Regions from separate parts of the Homo sapiens genome. Here all the other regions are reported to be linked to region 1. Evidence: microRNA targets listed by miRTarBase, many of them from high-throughput screens and not tested one by one. Region 1 holds a microRNA gene; each other region holds the end of a gene's coding sequence.

Evidence for each region. The annotated mature microRNA hsa-miR-629-3p reads GUUCUCCCAACGUAAGCCCAGC and lies in region 1 at 2,144-2,165, shown strand. An mRNA with a match to its seed (bases 2 to 7 or 8) in the 3' UTR can be bound and repressed. Matches are read on the target gene's strand: a 7mer-m8 pairs with bases 2 to 8, a 7mer-A1 pairs with bases 2 to 7 and ends in A, and an 8mer does both.
Region 2: miRTarBase lists SDK2 as a target of hsa-miR-629-3p. Seed matches in the 3' UTR shown: 8mer at 2,623-2,630, 8mer at 2,043-2,050 and 7mer-m8 at 1,160-1,166.
Region 3: the mRNA of EPB41L1 is a reported target of hsa-miR-629-3p. The part of its 3' UTR that is shown has no 7-base or 8-base seed match.
Region 4: miRTarBase lists FAM229B as a target of hsa-miR-629-3p. Seed matches in the 3' UTR shown: 7mer-m8 at 1,346-1,352, 7mer-A1 at 1,613-1,619, 7mer-A1 at 1,632-1,638 and 8mer at 2,206-2,213.
Region 5: the mRNA of TMEM233 is a reported target of hsa-miR-629-3p. Seed matches in the 3' UTR shown: 7mer-m8 at 2,540-2,546.
Region 6: miRTarBase lists IPO11 as a target of hsa-miR-629-3p. Seed matches in the 3' UTR shown: 7mer-A1 at 1,487-1,493.

What each region holds. Positions count from the first base shown.
Region 1 is chr15:70,078,378-70,081,551 of GRCh38, reverse strand. MIR629 (microRNA 629) reads left to right here and starts at 2,084; the gene lies at 2,084-2,180. The region is part of intron 4 of TLE3 (TLE family member 3, transcriptional corepressor); the gene reads left to right. RefSeq lists enhancers at 2,020-2,626, 2,627-3,174.
Region 2 is chr17:73,335,789-73,338,788 of GRCh38, forward strand. SDK2 (sidekick cell adhesion molecule 2) reads right to left here. Exons shown (of 45, transcript NM_001144952.2): 45 at 1-3,000. The coding sequence ends at 2,799. Among named protein-coding and RNA genes, the nearest start is that of CDC42EP4, 25 kb to the left of the region's middle. RefSeq lists an enhancer at 944-1,843.
Region 3 is chr20:36,228,888-36,231,887 of GRCh38, forward strand. It overlaps EPB41L1 (erythrocyte membrane protein band 4.1 like 1), which reads left to right. Exons shown (of 22, transcript NM_012156.2): 22 at 445-3,000. The coding sequence ends at 453. The region is part of intron 1 of LOC105372602 (a long non-coding RNA gene); the gene reads right to left. Among named protein-coding and RNA genes, the nearest start is that of AAR2, 6.1 kb to the right of the region's middle.
Region 4 is chr6:112,100,540-112,103,713 of GRCh38, forward strand. FAM229B (family with sequence similarity 229 member B) reads left to right here. Exons shown (of 4, transcript NM_001033564.3): 4 at 131-2,251. The coding sequence ends at 248. Among named protein-coding and RNA genes, the nearest start is that of FAM229B, 15 kb to the left of the region's middle. RefSeq lists an enhancer at 1-493.
Region 5 is chr12:119,640,197-119,643,196 of GRCh38, forward strand. TMEM233 (transmembrane protein 233) reads left to right here. Exons shown (of 3, transcript NM_001136534.3): 3 at 503-2,879. The coding sequence ends at 509. The region is part of intron 1 of PRKAB1-AS1 (PRKAB1, TMEM233 and CCDC60 antisense RNA 1); the gene reads right to left. Among named protein-coding and RNA genes, the nearest start is that of PRKAB1-AS1, 26 kb to the right of the region's middle.
Region 6 is chr5:62,626,844-62,630,017 of GRCh38, forward strand. It overlaps IPO11 (importin 11), which reads left to right. Exons shown (of 30, transcript NM_016338.5): 30 at 311-1,739. The coding sequence ends at 475. It overlaps IPO11-LRRC70 (IPO11-LRRC70 readthrough), which reads left to right. Exons shown (of 4, transcript NR_073584.1): 4 at 311-1,746. Among named protein-coding and RNA genes, the nearest start is that of LRRC70, 50 kb to the left of the region's middle.

The DNA of each region.
Region 1 (3,174 bases):
CAGAAACTGCACAGTAGGGGCTTGACACTTAGAAGTATGATATCATTGTTCTTGCCTAGAGGCTCTTCCACAGTGAAGCGCAGTTTTGCTGATGGACAGATTTGAATGGCTCGTGCTCTGAAGACTGGTCCTTGGGACCCAGCCCAGGTCAGCCAGCTGCCCAGCAACCAGCCAGCATCCATCCACATCTCAAGGTGGCTTGGCTCTTCTCTGCTGGTCTTTTGTAAATTCATGTGATGCTCTGTTTTATGGAGGAAATGATAAGCTGCACGCCAATTCGGGAATATTTAGGGTTCTAAAACTCTAAATTAGGGCTCCTGGATCTTATACGTTATCTAGTTAATCCCTTCATTTTGCAGACAACGAAATTAATGCCTAGAGAAGGGAAGTGATTTGCCCAAAGCCACACAACTAAATGGAGGCAGAATTGGAGGTAGAAGCCAGCTCATCTCTGCGTGGCGTTGGAGCATAACACACTCTTTGAAGGGGCAGTTTTCTCTTCTCCTTGCCTTTATTTGGCTGAGGTTAAAAGGAATTGTGCATTCAGAGTCCACAGGTACACACGACAGGGCAGTTTAAAACTAACTAGCAGACAGACTCTCTGGTGGAAGTAGCTCTCGACGGTGTGTTGGACACAGTCACCTAAATTAAAAATAAGGGCAAGGACTGGCTGGGTGCTGCAAGCCCAGGAGCAGGAGGTTGCTGGGGGGTACAGATCAAGAGCAGGCTCCGTTTCCCTTAATTTAGTGTCTTGGGTCAAGGGCCAAGGATAGTCTGAAGTAGCAGCAAACGTGAATACTAGACTGTGGTTAGAGAAATAGACTTTTAGAATGCTCAAGTACCCTCGGTTTACAGCAAGATGTTCAGAGGTCCTGCTTTAATGAGGAGATGATCATGCAAATGGGAGCTACTAAGGCGCATGGAACAGATTGCTGTTTGGGAAATTACACTTGCCCCCCACTATCTTGTTTTCTGTCATTTATTTGCCTAACAATCTTGACAGAGATGCAGGGCAGATGTTACTCCCAGCGCCCAGTTGGTAGTGCAGATTCCGGATGTAGCAGGACCTCTGTCCCCATTTCTCTGAACTGCTTCTCTGTCTGTATCTAGTAGATTAGTTCCTTCTGAGGAACAATGTTTTTCCACCAACAAAGCGCCTGCTTTGAACCATACTTGAAAAGAAACTTTCAAAGGCGGCACCAGCCTCCCTGAACACCTTTTCCAAAGTGCTTTCCAAAGGGAGCCATCTTCCCACCTCCCACCACCTCTCAGATTCGCTTCTGAAGACCTGGCTCAAAAGCAGTGGCTTTGTGGGACCGAGATGGAGGGAAGGATGGAGGTCGGCCTCTGGAAACTACAGCCGCCTTATCGATAACGGATTGCGCCAAGTTGCCAAAAGGAGTTTTCCAACATACGATCGAGTTCCAGTTTGTGATTTGTGACCTGTCCCAATTGTTGAAGTCACACTTGATTTTTTTTTTTTTTTTTCCTTTTTTGGAACTGATGTTTAGAGCTTGTTTGAGTTGGATCCAATGCTGTTTTAACAGCTGTTCTAATCAGAAGTGCTGTCAATTATTAACCTTAATGGTGGTTTTTCTTTCAAAAATATTTCTCTAAGCTCTCTTGAAATGTCAAAATTTGGCTTCTTGGTAGGAAGTCATTTAGTGAAATCACTTAATGGCTGGGCATCAGTTTCCCCATCTGAAAAGTGGAGATGTTGACAAGCGCCTTCTCCGCGGGGTTATTGTGGATGCACACATGGCGAGTTGGGTGGGTGATATCAGCGGTCATTACTGTTGTTAGGAGGGCTTCTGTTAAGCCAGCTTTCCATTTCCAGGAACTTCCCCTCCCCCAAGCGCCACCCTCCAAAAAATAAACATTTCTTTAAAATGTTGAGCGAACAGCTTTCCTGTTCATGCTTTGACTCTGCAGAGTGCACGCAGCCCATTCTCAGGGTTGGGCAGCCTTTGTAGAGATGGGGGAGGCCCAATCCCTGCTTCCACTTTGTGGGGAGACCCCAAGAGGGTACTAGCAGATGATGGCACAGTGACAGCTGGGAGGGATGGGATGTGCTTGCTTCATGTCCCTTTCCCAGGGGAGGGGCTGGGTTTACGTTGGGAGAACTTTTACGGTGAACCAGGAGGTTCTCCCAACGTAAGCCCAGCCCCTCCCCTCTGCCTGCCTCAACCCTACACAGTCCTGTCTGGTGACGTGCCAAAGTCCTTCCTGCCTTGCAGAGAGGCCTCTCTTCGTCGAACATGGGCCTCAGGAAAGACAGCCTGAATGCCACTACCCCAGGCTTGTGGAAGGTTCTGCATCTGTGTGGCATTGTTGCGATAGCCCTCAGTTGATGCTTGTTTGTGGTGTTGGGAGGCAGGAACTACTTTAGGAGGGTGGAGGGGTGAGAATGAGAGAGGACTTGCCCTGAGCCACCCAGCTGTGGTCACCTGATGGCCCGGATGGCTACATAAATCCTGGGAGATCCGTTGTCCTCATAACCAGAGTGAGCTGGGCTCCAGACCAGCCCTATGGGAAGATCCTGTCTGTGGGAAGCCTTTGGCCACGTGTTTGCTGAAGGGTGTGGGGAAGGGCAAGGTCAGCTACGTTTCTTTTTTGTCAACTCCCGAGACCCTGACCCTTGGCCTGTTTACCAGTGGAAGGAGGCCATAGCCAGAACCCTTTTATAATCACCCTGCCTCCCTGCTCTCCCAGAGACTGTGAGAGTTAATAGTTGCTGAGGAGGCCAGAATGACTGGGGATGTTCTGACCTTGCCCCTGCCTTCCTGGCTGTGGGGAGGAGTAGTGGCCAGGGACCCATCTAGGTGGCTTGCGATTGGCCTGGCTTGGAGGTGCCACCCCACCCCGTTGGTGAAGGGCTTGGGCCACTGGCCACCAAGTGTATGTCAACACTCCATCCACCACGGCCCCTCCCACAGATGCTGCCCATGCTGGGGCAGGCCCAGATCCACAGCAAGGGGTCACTGCAATATGAAGTCTCAATAAATGCAGAGATGCCAGTGATACTATTCTTTGGGCCAAACATTTACGGAGCAGCTACTGTGTGCCAGACACTGCTCTATTGTTGTTTAAGATAACAGGCCTTGGACCTGTGAGCTTCCTAAACAGTAAGGTTGGTTTTTTTTGTTTATTTTTGTTTGCTTTTTGTTTTTTACA
Region 2 (3,000 bases), not on the chromosome of region 1:
GAGATGGCTTCAGCCATCAGAGGGAGTTCAGGAGTCTCTTTGCTAACACACATACAGATGTGTGTTCTGTGCATATTTGTGTGTGCATGTGTGTAAGCACAGGCGTGCATGGGCACCATCCCGCATGTACACGTAGGTGTCAGCATGGGTGCGAATGAGCGTGTGGGGAGTGGGGGGGTGGAATATCTTAGTGCACCAGGTGATTCATTAAAGGCAAAGGAAAATTGACCTCATGTGCAATATATACACAGACACAATGTTTTTACTCACTCCTGCTTCCTCCCAAATAATCCCTCACTGGGCTGGGCTTAAATAATTCCCTAATGCAAACTGGGAACTTCCTTAAATGGTTAAATGCTCAGCAGAGAGGGAAAGGGATGAAGTTATTTAAAAAAAAAAAAAAAAAAAAGATGAGAGGAAAGAAAAGAAAGCTGTGCGGCACGATCACAGGCCGGCAGCTGCAGATGTGCTGCCATGGAGATGCCAGATGCTGCAGAGGGTGGGGGCGGAGGTGGCAGGGGTGGAGCAGGTGTCCAGCTGACTCCACTGCAGCCCCCAGACAAGTCCAAGGAGGCCCCGAGAGCACCTTACTTCCTGGAGGGGCAGAACCTCAGCCCTTGGTTCTCCTTTGGGGAAGATTGTGCTTCCCTTCCCAGGCCTCCTTATTGGAGAAACCGCTTTTTGGACACTGGAGCTGGGCTGGCCTGTCTGCTGAGCCATCTTCCAGCATCTCCCCGTTCACATTTCCCAGGGGTCAAGTGCTTCAGGAAAAACTCATGGCTGGGTGTGCCCGTTCTTTGGGCCCCAGACCCTGACTTCCCTTCCCGGTCACCATTAGCACAGTGACTGACTTGGGGCTGTAGGAGAGTGGTCCAGGCTCTCTCTTACCTTGGCATGTTTCCCAAATCTCCTACTTGGGCTTCCTTGAACTCTGCTCACCCACCCCAACAGAGCATCATCTCTTGGGCAGGGCCAGCAGCGCCTGTACACAGTGCACAGAGGGAGCCCTGCTCCACGAAGGGGCTCACGCTGAATCAGACAGGCCCCTGTGGGCCATCTGCCACCCATCTCAGCGGTGGGGCAGGTGTTGGGCTGGCCTTACAGGGCTGGCTGAGGGCACAGAGGGCCTTGGACAATGTATGGAGTTAGATAGAAAGGCTTCTCCCTAAACCCTGGCATCCGTAAGTACCAAGTGGACGGGAAGATCCTGGCCACTGGATGTGGCTTTTTGCAGAACACTCCTTGGAGCAGATTGTGTATGTGTATGTGTGTGTGTGTGTGTGTGTGTGTGTGTAAAAGCATTCCCTCCCATCAGCTATTCTTGTCACTTGGTCCCATCTGACCTGCCCCTGCTGGGCGTGCAATTCAAATGCTGGGTCCACTTTGGACTGAGCTTCCTGACCTGCCCCTTCCCCTCCCCGCCCTGGCCAGGCGGAGCCCAGCCTGGAAGCTGTTACTGGGGGTTAGGGTGTCTTTGCCTTTTTGCCTGTAAACTGGGTGCTAGGCTGACTGAGCAAACTCTGGGTATTCCAGCCTCTGGACCAGGGACTTGGGCCACCCCTCTGGGCTCCTGTGCCTCTGTGCTTAGGAGGCTGCCGGGTGGCAGTGAGAGGGACACAGATCTGAAAGTGAGTGTGCTGTCTGGCTAGGAGGGCCCAGATGAGTTTGTTCTGGAGAGGATCCCTAGACCCTGTTCCTTGTAAGTGCATGGGAGATGTGTGTGTGTGTGTGTGTGTGGTGAGGATCTATCCAGTGGAGAGTGACGTGTCTGCCCAGAGGGAGATCCCTCAGCTGTGCCCCACTCCCCAGCCTTGGGAAGCTGACTACCCCTTTAAAGAGAGGACGGATGGAACCTGGATTGGAAGAAAGAGAACAGTCAAAGTGTCATTCTTATCTTGCCCACAATGCGTTAAACCTAATCATCCCACAGTGCCAAGGCCAGTCGCCTTATTTACACCTCTGCTCCCCAGACTTCACCTTTCCTTGTCCATGCTCAGGAAAGTCAATTCCAGCACAGGGAGGCAGGGGTCAGTTGTGGGGGGTTTCTCCCCTACCCTTGGGCTCTCTTCCTTGGATTCAATATTTTAAAAAATATGCAGGAACAAGGAAGGCGCTAAGCAAATTCTCACCCTTTAGTTTTTTGTTTTTTGTTTTTCTTCCTTTTTCTAAATAAACCAAATGCTTGGTGGAGAAGTTGAGCAGGGGAGATGGGCAGTAGAGGTTGCCAAGACAGGGCAGGGGGTCTGGATGAGGCTGTCCGATGCCTGCCAGCCACAGTGATGGTGCATGGAGGGAAGGAGGAGCAGAGAGAGAAGATAGGCGTGGCCTCCGGGATGCCCATTCTTTTTGCAGAGAGCAGCGGCAGTGGGTCCAGGGGTCCTGGAGGGGCTGGAAGGGGGCAGCTGGCTGGACATCCAGAAGCTTTTTCTTCCCTCGGCCACGCCTGCCTGGCGGCCTCCAGTCCTTAGCCTCCGCTCCCTCTCTCTCTCCAGATGCCCGCCCCACTCCGTGTCCATAGCAGTGACACAGCCACTTCCCCAGCTCCGTGTAATTCCCAAGGGAGCAGTGAACCCCACCATCTCAAAGCTGAAGAGCTGCTGGCCACACACATCCTCTCACGGTTTTCTCCCTCCTTCTGAACGCCGGCTTTGCTGGCCCTGGAATCTCTGGAAAAATAAACTCAGGAGGTGAAAAGTTGACTTGGTTTCTTGGTGTTTTTGTTTTCTGGCAGGCAGTGAGAGGAGGGGTGAAGGAGGAGTTTGGTGCCATTTCTCTTTCTGCTTTTTCCTCTTCTGATGTCAAACAAATGATGAAAATCCTGCTATGGGAGCCCGGGAGCCTGGGGCCAGGCTGCTGGGGGGACGGTAGAGGGTGCTCTGCTGACTTGGGGGGTTAGGGGGGTTCTGGGGCGTTGGAGTCCGACTGGCCTTGGGCCGAAAGAGGCTGCCCTGCTGGGTGCTGGTGCTGTTGGTGACGGTGGTGTGGTCTGGCTCACCCGAG
Region 3 (3,000 bases), not on the chromosome of region 1:
GATCTTAGCTTCTCGGTGTTAAAGGACATTTTAACACATTGTCAGGCCAAAGTAAAAGATTACCACCTCCCTGGAAACAAGCGAGCAAACACACATGGGCTCTGGAATCCAACAGATGTGGGTTCGGTTCTCTGCTGCCACACACAAGCTGCGTGGCCTTGGAGTGCAATAGCTACTCACAGGCATGATGATTACACATTACAGCCTTGAGTTTCTCACCTCAAGAGATCCTTCCACCTCAGCCTCCCAAGTAGCTGGGATTACAGGTGCAAGTCACTCTACCTTGCTGAGTCACAATAAAGGGCATATGGTAAAGGGTAGCAAAAACAACCTCTTGCCATGTATTTTAAAACAAGTGACAGAAGTTACTAATTTTTCTTGTCCTCTTCCTTCCTTTCCCCCCACTCCCCACCCCCCATTCTACCCCATGCCTCTGGCTTCCAGGAATCCTGACCTCTGTGAAGAGATCCTGGCATTTCTGGTCCAACCCAAGCCAGAGAACCATTAAGAAGGGGCCTTCATTCTGGATTCTCCGACGCAACACTGACGTCCCAGCTGCGACGTACTGTCACTGATGAGAGACTGGGAAGGGAAAAGCATATATATATAGATATATAGAGATATAGATATATATACAGGAAACACCGCATCCTTGCACTGCTGCTGGGGCTGGCAGAGCAGTTGGCTGACAGCAACAACCGACATCTGAACACCTACATTTCCTTTGCAGACAAATTGAAGAACTGGTGGGATTTTTTTCAAGAAAAAAAATTATATAATAACTATAATCCCTTGCTCACCCCTTTCCCCCGCCAAATAAGAAACGCAAGCCAGACCACGATGATTGTAGAAGTCCCTCCCGCCCTGGTTCTGCACGTTACAGTTAGCAGACGAGCAATTCCATTTGTTCTTCTCCAGCATCTCTAAGGCCCACTTGAATGCAAAGGAAAACACTTGCACAGCAAAGCAAGAGAAGTCACAGCAGCAAGACACGCACAGTCAACCATTTTCCGAGAAAAAAAGAAAATTCCCCACTTGGAAAGAAAGAGGAGGAACACTGGATTCTTACTTTCTGGATCTTGACACTGGGCTGCAAAACCTACCTTCCTCTCTCCCGCCTCCCCTCACCCTCAACTCTCAATGTCTTGCTGTCATTTTCTGTCTCGGCTCCCTCCTCCCCCTTCCCCCTTCCCCCACCCCACACCCTTCACCCTCTGTGTCCTGGTCCTTCTGAGGGCCACTGCAGATGACTCTCCTTTGAAATGAGAAAAAGAAAAGAAAGCAAGAACAGAAAACGAAGCCACAGGAAGGGAAGTAGACATTGTATGCTTATGGTTTCTCATTATGAAGGTGCAGCTTGTAGGAGGTTTGTACGGATGTGCTTTGAAGTTATGTATATTACATATAACAGGAAAAAATATTAAAATAAACAGTGCTGGTAAGTATGAAGCTGACATTCTAAAATTATAATTATCTGACTGTGATTGATGTATCCTGAGGTTCCTAGATCTCACTGAACTGGCCCAGCTAAGGAGACCTGGACTCTGGGTGTGGGTTGGCTCACAGTAGGGGCTGACGGGTTCAGTGTAGTAATACTGTGTGTGGTGTTTGTAATTGGTTGATTGGTGGGGAGGGGTGGGGGGCCCTAATGGAGAGGTGTGGGTTTGGCAAGAAAGAAGCAACACAGATGTCGTCCCCAAAATGCCAGTTCAAGACACCTTCTCCCTGCCCCCCTGGTAGTAACAGTCAGGGCCTGGTCTGTGCTCAGGTACTGGGTCCCAGTCTGGGACTCTGCTGCTGAAGTTGCCACAGTAGAGGTCCCTGGCTTAGTCCTTATCTCCCTACGGGGCTTGCCTTGGTTTTCAGTCTTCTCTCTCTTTCTCTCTTTTTTTTTTTTTTGCCACATTCTGCCCTTCCCTGACCCCATTGTAATAACCAACTCCATATCCAAAGGGAGGTGGTGCTCTCAGCCATTGTAGAAGATGGTGGCTTTAACCTGACTGTCTAAAAATTCCCAGCTAAGCCTTTTCCTCTACTCTCTTCCTTGTTCTGAATCATTTCTTCTTCTCAGGCCAAAGTAGCCATGGTAAGGAGGCTTCATGGGGCAGACCCTGAAAGATCAAAACTGCATTTGCAAAGCCCTCCCCTGTCCCAGGACAAAGCTGAGACTGACGGGTGATGTTGCTCATAGGCTCCAGCTCTGCATAAGACCTTGGCTTGGAGACCTCCCTCTCAGTCAACAGCTGAACTCTGAGCTTGTGCCCAGAAATTACCCCAAGACCACAGGAACCCTTCAAGAAGCTCCCATCACAAGCTTGGCATTGCTCTCTGCCACACGTGGGCTTCCTCAGGCTTGTCTGCCACAAGCTACTTCTCTGAGCTCAGAAAGTGCCCCTTGATGAGGGAAAATGTCCCACTGCACTGCGAATTTCTCAGTTCCATTTTACCTCCCAGTCCTCCTTCTAAACCAGTTAATAAATTCATTCCACAAGTATTTACTGATTACCTGCTTGTGCCAGGGACTATTCTCAGGCTGAAGAAGGTGGGAGGGGAGGGCGGAACCTGAGGAGCCACCTGAGCCAGCTTTATATTTCAACCATGGCTGGCCCATCTGAGAGCATCTCCCCACTCTCGCCAACCTATCGGGGCATAGCCCAGGGATGCCCCCAGGCGGCCCAGGTTAGATGCGTCCCTTTGGCTTGTCAGTGATGACATACACCTTAGCTGCTTAGCTGGTGCTGGCCTGAGGCAGGGCAGGAAATCAGAATAGCATTTGCTTCTCTGGGCAAATGGGAAGTTCAGCGGGGCAGCAGAATCAGTGGCATTCCCCCTGGTGCAGGCCGGTGGGTCCACTCCAACTCCCCCTGAGTGTAGCAGCACACTTTCCATACACCAGGTTCTTTCTACAATCCTGGTGGAAAAGCCACAGAACCTTCTTCCTGCCCTTCTTGAGAGTTCCCCCTCTTTCTGGGTCAAGAGCTGGAGTGGTGGCTCCATCCT
Region 4 (3,174 bases), not on the chromosome of region 1:
TCATTGTATGACATTCAGAGATTTCAAAGTGATTTAAAACAGTTAAATATACAATCAAACTTTGGTGCTCTGAAAAAAAATATTTCCTCTTTTTAGTATCTAACTACATGTCATCTGCTTTTTTATTCAGGCAACTCCGGAGGTGCCCTGGAAGTCATTGCCTGACAATAACTGATGTTCCCGTCACTGTTTATGCAACAACGAGAAAGCCACCTGCACAAAGCAGCAAGGAAATGCATCCTAAATAGCACCATTAAGTCTTTTGTCAAGGTCTGACTAGGTCAAGGGTAATGGACCAGTATCATCTGGTGATCTGGTAAACAAATAAAAGTGGTGGCACCTTTAGATGATGACAACAGTTGAGCTCTTTACTTTTAGTAAGACCGACAGAAATGTAGTCAGTAAAGCACATGTAGTGATAGGCTATCAGTTATGTCTGATACATAAGACAGAATAATATTTCACAATTAGAAAGTACCTTAGAGATCATCTTGCTCACAGTAGATCATTAATATCAATAATTAAAGATGAAGCTTAATCCACCATGGTCATCAGTCAGGTGGGGCTTATTCTAAATGCTTAATGTGTCTTAAGCTCATTTCCTTGTTCATATTTGGGTTGCTACTTGGCTAAATCCTTTCACCTTAGTACCCTAAGCCAGTTTCCTGGCTTGATACTATTTGATAATGCTCTGCTCAGGAATGATTATATTGGGTGAGAAATGGAGCCCTGGGGTTGTGTGTTTTGGAACAGTATTCAAGATCAAAGAAAGTTCTTAGTCCATGGTTAATCTGCAAGGCATTTAAGCCACTTCCATAGAGGAGCCCAGATTGTTGGTTAAATATATTGATAATGAAGTCAAAGCTGTGGTTCCAACCCCGATTTTTCCAAGAAAAATGACGTCTGGTTATCACTTTGTACACGAAGTGCTAACCAGGTATCTTGATAAATTGTTTACAGTAGGTATTGAGAAACCTCATGTGGATTTTTTAATTTGGTTAGATGTGGGATCACTTTTGAGGATGAGGCCAGCTCTCTATGTTCTCTTTTTCTTCTTGCAGTAGTCCCCAGAAACTCAGTCTGCTTTCCTTTTCTCTCGATGGCTGTCAGCACCCATCTAATGAAATTGTCTTCTCCAAAAGACTGACTTTAGGATCAGATACAATTTTCACCAGTGTTTTTTGTCTACCTTGCTGCTTCTGAAAATATACATATAAGCCTTTTAAAATGAAAAGTTTATTAACTTATAATTAAATAGACGTAGATGCATATGTGTTGCATTAGGTGAAAAGAAAAACTGCCAGGGAGTTATAAGAGGAAAAACTCTCAGAGCTCACACTGAGCTGGGAGAAGTTTGAATGCCAACCAGTTAAAGTGGAAAGATCTTGAACATGTGGGGCATTGAGTAGAGACTCAGAAAGGTTGTACTTTCATAAGAGATCCAAACTGGAGCTAGACTAAAGGCTAATGTATACCAATTTTAAGAAAGCTTAAAAATAAGCCTTGAGAGACTCAAGATGATCTCTAAGTAACCTCATTTTATCTGCCAAATAAAAATAGAACATTCCTTAAAGGAAGAAAACAAAATCGAGGCAGGAAATTGCCTGAGGCTGGAGAAAAAATGACAGGAAGGAGAAAGGAGTGATGAAAAATTCCTCAGAGGGCTGGGCTTGGTGGCTCATGCCTGTAATCCTGGCACTTTGGGAGGCCGAAGTGGATGGATTATCTGAGGTCAGGCATTCGAAGCCAGCCTGGCCAACATGGTGAAACCCCGACTCTACTAAAAATACAAAAATTAGTCGGGTATGATGGGCAGGTGCCTGTAATTCCAGCTACTTGGGAGGCTGAGGCAGGAAAATAGCTTGAACCCAGGAGGCAGAGGTTGCAGTGAGCTGAGATTGCATCACTGTGCTCCAGCCTAGGCAACAGAGTGAGACTTTGTCTCAAAAAAAAAGAAAAACAAAGAAAAATTCCTCAGAGCTCATACAAGGCTGGGTAGAATATGTGTTTCAACAATAGTGGATCTTTTAATATAGTACATGGATCATTGAGTAGAGTCTTCAGCAAAATATTGGCAAAGTAGGGTTAGGGTTAGGTTAGGGAGATGGGAATAGACTGAAGACTACTCTGGACTTGCCCTAACAGAGTTTAAGAGCAACATTTGAAAGGATCAAACTGATTTCAAGTAACTTGAGTGCATCCAAGGGGAGAAAACCCATCAAAATAAAAATAAAAACTACAATAAAATCCAGCACCAAAAGTGTAACATTCACAATGATTAGCATCTAATAAAAAGTTACCAGGCATGAAAAAAAAAAGGAAAAGGCAATCCACAGTCAAGAGAATCTTTAGTCAATGGTAATAGACTGAGAATGACAGATGATGGCATTAGTAAATGATATGGTTTGGCTCTGCGTCCCAACGCAAATCTCATGTTGAATTGTAACCCCCAGTGTTGGGGGAGGGACCTGATAGGAGGTGACTGGATTATGGTGAACACCTATATGGATATGAATATGGAGTATTCTCCATGGATATGGAGAACACCCCTTGGTGTTCTCATAATAGTGAATGAGTTCTCATGAGATCTGGTTGTTTAAAAGCGTGTAGCACTTCCTTCTTTTCCCTCTGTGTCTCCTGCTCCACCATGGTAAGATGTGCTTGCTTCCCTTTGCCTTCTGCCATTGTAAGTTTCCTGAGGCCTCCTAGCCATGCTTCCTGTTAAGCCTGTGGAACTGCATCATTTAAACCTCCTTTCTTCCTAAATTACACAGTCTCAGGTAGTTCTTTATAGCAGTGTGAAAATGGACAAATACAGTAGATCAGCTACCATAAATATCGTTCAAGTAGTAGATAAAAACATAATGAAGAAATAAATGGAAGGTATAAAAATGACCCAAATAGAACTTTTAGAGATGAAAAATACAATATCTGAAGTAAGAATATACACTGAATAGGATTAAGAGATTAGATACTGGAGAAGAAAATATTAATGAACTTGAATATATAGCTATATAAATTATCCAACATTAAGTACAAAGAAAAAAGCGTATAAGTTTTGTGTTTCATTATCAAGCAGTCTAATATATATGTAAGTGGCTTCTCAGAAGAATGGAGGGGGATAGAAAAATATTTGAAGAAATAATGGTCAAATTTTCCCCCAATTTGATGAAA
Region 5 (3,000 bases), not on the chromosome of region 1:
CAGGCTGGAGTGCAGTGGCACAATCTCGGCTCACTGCAAGCTCCGCCTCCCGGGTTCACGCCATTCTCCTGCCTCAGCCTCCCAAGTAGCTGGGACTACAGGCACCCGCCACCACGCCCGGCTAATTTTTTTTGTATTTTTAGTAGAGATGCAGTTTCACCATGTTAGCCAGGATGGTCTCTATCTCCTGACCTCGTGATCCACCCGCCTCAGCCTCCCAAAGTGCTGGGATTACAGGCGTGAGCCACCATGCCTGGCCTGTTTTTGCTTTTGTTTTTTTGCACGTACCACATGTAAGATAAAATAAGTTTTACAAATAGAATATGTTTCTCAAAAGGAAGCCCCTGCTTAGAGTCAAAAGTGTGCACGCAGGCTGGTACATTTCAACATGTGTTTAACCAGAGTCATCATCATCAAATAAGGAAGGCATCGAGCTGGGAAAGCCAACCACAGAAGCTCAGCCCACGGTCTTTCTCTCTCTCTCTCTGTCTGTACCACACAGTGCCTGAGGAACCAGCGGTCAGTGGGCTGTGAGCGTGGAGGATGGACCTCATCCACACACACCCCAAAGGAGTTTCTAAGGAATGGATCCTTGACTTCAGACTGTGAGATCTTTTCCTCCAGGACTCTCCAGAGGCAGGTCCCTGGCAAATGAACAAGAAAAAAAAAAAAAAAAAGTCCAAAATTTAGGCAATCCAAGCTGCACAGCCGGATCAGCCAAAGTCATTGATTTGTAAAAATGAAAAGAAAACAGAAAAAAGAAAAATGAAGTCTCACTGTCTCAGTTTAGCGAATCCCGTTGTGTCCACTCCTGTCCTCCAGAGGCGAGCCTCAGGAAATCACATAACTTTTCACTGAGGGGATCCAGGGGGTCTCCATATAGGGGGAGATGGAGGTTTCTAGGAAGAGCAGCAGGTGCTGGTATTTACAATGTTGAGCACAAACATTTGCAGCATGTTTAAAATTGTCTAGTAGAGTTCAAGTTGTGGATTTGCTTTTCCTTTTATTCTTATAACCTTCAGTAACTCCTCCTCTGGGAGTCAGCACTCCCATGCCCAGAGTTCACCCATCTGGTCATCAAACACTCAAAGAAGGGGCTTTTCTGGCCTTTTGTCTTGATGCTTATATTTCCAAATAGGCCCCCTCCCTTGCTTGCATCCACGTTGGTCAACTTGACCAAAACCTCACTCTTCACTCAAACAGGCTCTGAGAATGGACTTAGTGGCCAATTCTAGGTACATGAGCACTTCCTGTATCCCAGTTTTGGGAATAAACTGGCTGTATTTATAGAATGTGCTTTTTTTTTTTCAATTTCTCACTCTCTCTCCTATCTCTAGCAAGTCTCAGGCAAGATCTTTGATTTTCCTGGATGCCACCTGGAAATGCCACCCATTGTGTTTCTTTTCTGTCAAATGTAAACCCTTTAGATGTGAATGTACTGGTTTAATGATGCCATTATTCTGCCTGCCAGAACGCAGTAACCCAGTGTCTCACAGAGCACAAGGGGTGTGCCACTGGTGGTACACAAGATAATTTTTAAGTAGTTTCTAGGAACAACATTAAGTAATACCAAATCACAAAGAATGTTTCCCCTTTTCTATTCTTTTTTCATCCTGATTACAGCAAGGAAAAAGTCTCTGTTTAGTGCTAGCAGGTCCTTTACACCTTTCAGACACTATGGCTCTTTTCCCTTTTTAGCAAAGAAAGAGCAGGCCTCAGAGTCTTCTGTCTAGATAGAATTTAATGATATTGTTTTGTGTCATGGTATTTATTTTATTTATTACCTTCCATTTACAGCTTCCCACAGTGGGGGATGTGACATATTGTTTCTGTTCAAATAAATTAAGAAAAACAAGAGAACTCAAGAAAATATCAAGTAATTAACACACCAGATAAGTATATGTGGCAAAAGTCACTTCAAAGAATTAATGTCAGAAAGATGGTGATAATGAAGCAAAAGAAAGGCAGATTATGCTGGCCGGGCGTGGTGGCTCACGCCTGTAATCCCAGCAATTTGAGAGGCTGAGATCACTTAAGGTCAGGAGTTTGAGACCAGCCTGACCAACATGGTGAAACTCCATCTCTACTAAAAATACAAAAATTAGCCAGGCGTGGTGGTGCATGCCTGTAATCCCAGCTAATAGAGAGGCTGAGGCAGGAGAATCACTTGAATCCAGAAGGCGGAGGTTGCCGTGAGCTGAGACTGTGCCACTACACTCCAGCCCGGGGTGACAGAGCAAGACTCCATCTCAAAAAAAAAAGAAAAGAAAACGAAAGAAAAAGAAAAAAGAAAGGCAGATTATTCTAATTGAATGAATAAGAGGCTGAGAGTCAATACCTAGTTCCAACGCCCTTTTGTTTTTGCAGGGTTTTTATTGGCCACTAACTAGCTATGCAAGCTGATTTTAGGCAAGTTTCATAGCCTCTCTGTGCCTAAAATTCCTTCACCTGCAAAATGGGGATAAGAATGCCTGCCTACTTACCTCACAGTGCTGTTATGAGAATTAATTGTTGTAATAGTTGTGACTAACCATTGGCGGGGAGAATTCTAAGTACTATACCAATACAAATTTCAGCATTTTTTCATATACTGAACCCTAGCAAAAAAAAAAAAAATTCTGATGAACATCAGATTCAACCTGTCATTTTACCCGGATGTTGTGATGAGCCAGCACTTGTCCCAGGAGGACGTTGAATCAGGGACACGAAATCTCAGCACACAGAGATTCTAGCATCATTCCAATAGATTGGACCCTGATTTCTGTTTCTGACATCCTGTTTTTTGTTTGTGCGTGTTTGGGTCCCTGGTCTTTTACCCAAATCAAATGAAAAGTGTTGCTCAGAGGCAGAATAAAAATGGTTTTAAGTAAGCCTGTGTACCACAGTGTGTGAATTGTGTTTTCTTGGGGTTCCCCACCTTCCAGAGATTTCCGTAACCAAAATAAGCTCATCTAGTCCAGCATCAGTCCCCAGGGAAGAGCCCAGAGAGGCCAGAGGTGG
Region 6 (3,174 bases), not on the chromosome of region 1:
ATGTTCTGTTTCTTTTAGAATGCTTTCTACTAGGCTTTGATGCTTTAAATGAATGAGTCCCCCAGCTCTTGAGAAATGCCTGATCAGAAAACATGTTCAGGGGGCGCTAGGGAACTGAAGTTAAGACTAATTGAATGAAATTTTCTTTGACAGATTTTTCCACCATGAGATTAGTACAGAATCTGTGTGAGAAGAGAGGCAGAAGCAATTTTGTTACTGTAGAAGAGATTACAAAGAACTTTTGTAAATTGCAGGTAGGAGAGACTTGTTTTGCTTTTTTGACAGTCTTGCTCCTCTCTGTATCCCACAGCTGGCCCTGAAGGACCCTGTTCATACAGTGTCACTGCAGCAGTTCATCTACGAGAAGCTCAAGGCACAGCAGGAGATGCTAGGAGAACAAGGTTTCCAGTCCCTCATGGAAACAGTGGATACGGAGATTGTCACCCAGCTACAGGAGTTTTTGCAAGGATTCTAAGAGCACATGACATGTGGCTGCCTCCCCTTTCAGAAACAAGCTGAGTAACCCAGCCTGCCGTTTGTATGTGAGAGCCTGCTGAGATGAAGAAATCACTTCATGAAAATAAGCAAAGACCACACATTTTTTACTACAAAATGTAAAGGATAAATGTAAATCCTGCATAACTAAAATCACAAACCTATTCCTCAAAAGAATTTAATTTTATATTTATGAGGGGGCCCTTCACTAAAAAGTACATGTAAAAGTACATTTGATGACAATAGCTGCTTAGTTTCCTGTTAAGAGAAGAAACTTTATCTTTTAATTATGTGCTCTTAATATTTGAAGATGAGAGTTAATACCTGAGATGTTTTTCTGCAACCAAAATTCATTAAATTTGGCTGCCTTATCCTTTTTTTAAGCTAATGAAACTACAGGTTTGAAAAATGACAAAGCTGTTCAGATGATGCTATTAAAGAAATGTGTGTACTAAGCAAAAATATATAAATAGTGACAAATACACATTACCAAGCTTATCTTGCAAGGGAGTTATTTTCATCTAACATAGAAAGTGTGTTTTATCAGACAAATGCTTTTATTTTCATTCTAATAATTTGATACAGAAATTAGTAAAGGCATTTTTTTCTTTTTTTTTCCAGTAAATACATTGGGTCTATAAATGTGCATTTGTAAGGGCCACAAAAGTGAACGTGTGGTACTGTAGTACCACGTGGGAGACCTCTGGTTATGGTTTAGTCCTAGTTCCTTTGTTACTCCTGTGAGCACCGAGAAGAACTGGGCGACTCCCAGTCCCACCTGTGCTGTGACAGTCCCACGTGGCTATGACAGACTGTTTAGTACTTACCCTTCTCAGGTTCCTCAGTGCAGGGGTGCATCAGGGCCTCAATAATAGGGGTATACCTGGGAGGATCCAGCAGTAATCCCCAGGGTACTAGGATTACTAGTACTCTGATGGAACTAGTCTTCCTTCCTTATTCCTCGAACATGCAGTACATAAAAAGGGGAAAAGGAGAAAAAAAAAGCCTTACTTTGTTTTACTTGCCATTTATTGTAAGGAAACTTTAAAGCATTTTTTAGGAAATACTCAAAAGCAAGGTTGGAAAATGTTTTATCTTTCTATAGAAAGTTGGGTACAGTATGTAACTGCGGGAAACCCACTGCCCCTTTGTAAGCTGTGGAACCCAAACTGTATGGGGATATTTGATGTTTTCAGAAAGAGGAAGAAAATATGGTCCAAATTAAATTTTCCAAAGATACCTCACCTTGGACTGATTTGTCTGACTACTTTTCTTGCTCCCCCCAAAAAATGAGTTCTTAAAAATTGCCCAGTGACTTATAGAGAATTTTCTTTTATACTCTAGCTTTGATTCTGTGCTAGTAGGTATCAGTATTGCAGGTGGCAAATCCTAGTTACCCTTTTAATTTATCTTCATTTAAAGACAAAAAGCTCCTTTCAAGTGATATTTCTTTATCAGTATTACTCAGTCCTGAAGACTGATCCAAGAAGAATTTCTTTTTGTTGACTTAATTATTTTCATTTGAAACACTAACTCATTAGTGTTATCAGAAATTCTCAAACATGCTCATTTTTCAGTTATAGTAAAGTACTCATCCTTCTAATTCCTGACAGATTTCATTATAGTGCCATACCAAATATTACTGAAATAGCTACCTTGCAAAAGAAGTAAAAAGCTTATCTCAGGGAAAGAGTTTGCTTCATTTTTAAAACTCACAAGTTTAAATAGGCTTGGTAAATAGCTCAGAAAAATAATTCATGTATCTTGAATTTCTAAGTGCTCAATTAAGACATAAAGTGTAATTATTGGTTTACAGAATTCTATTCATTAACAGAACTATATAGCAAATATATTAAGTTTAGGACAAACAACTCAGCCAGGCCTCTGGCCTCTGGGTGAACTGTGGCTCCTGAAACAAGGTAATGATCATTTATACTCCAAAAACATATTCCTTTTCTATTTATTTTCTATTCCAGAGACTTCTCCCAACCCTCTCACAAAGGCCCATGTGACTAACAATAACATTTGAAAGCTTCCTTATAAGTTGGTCCCTCCTCTCTCTCCTACTAGTCATTTTAGAGAATCCACATTATTGCATACAATTTTTAAAAAGATACAATTTTTCTTGAAAAATCCTCGCTTTAATCTTTATTTTACCCATTTCTTTATTCAGTTAGTGTTTATTGAGTTCTGTTTCATGCCATAATGCTGTACCACATTCTGAGATTAGAACAGAGTACCCACCTTCATGAAATTTCACAGTTGATTAGGAACACAGACTTGCCGACATGCTGTAAGAAAATAGGGGTTCCAATGGAAGTGCACATTCTAAAGCAGTTGGCCTGCAGGGGAAGGAGATTGTGTATGAAATAAAATGATGCTGTCACTGTATAATTTGATAGTTATTTAAAAACTGCTCCCTAATGGCATGGTTTGGTGAGGCTACTTAAGCGTCAGTGGCACTATACTGGAACTGGGTAACTCCCTGACTCCAGACTCGCATCAATTTGGAGTCACTCTAACATAAAAAATCATCAGGTTTTGAAAATATTGGATCTTTGTAGCCTCACGACTAATCTCTAATTCCATGAATTAAAACATAAGGCTCACCTACTAAGGGTTGTTGTCTTTTCTTCTTCTCCAAGTCATAAGCCTATTGTATAGAAATTTAAAAGTTGA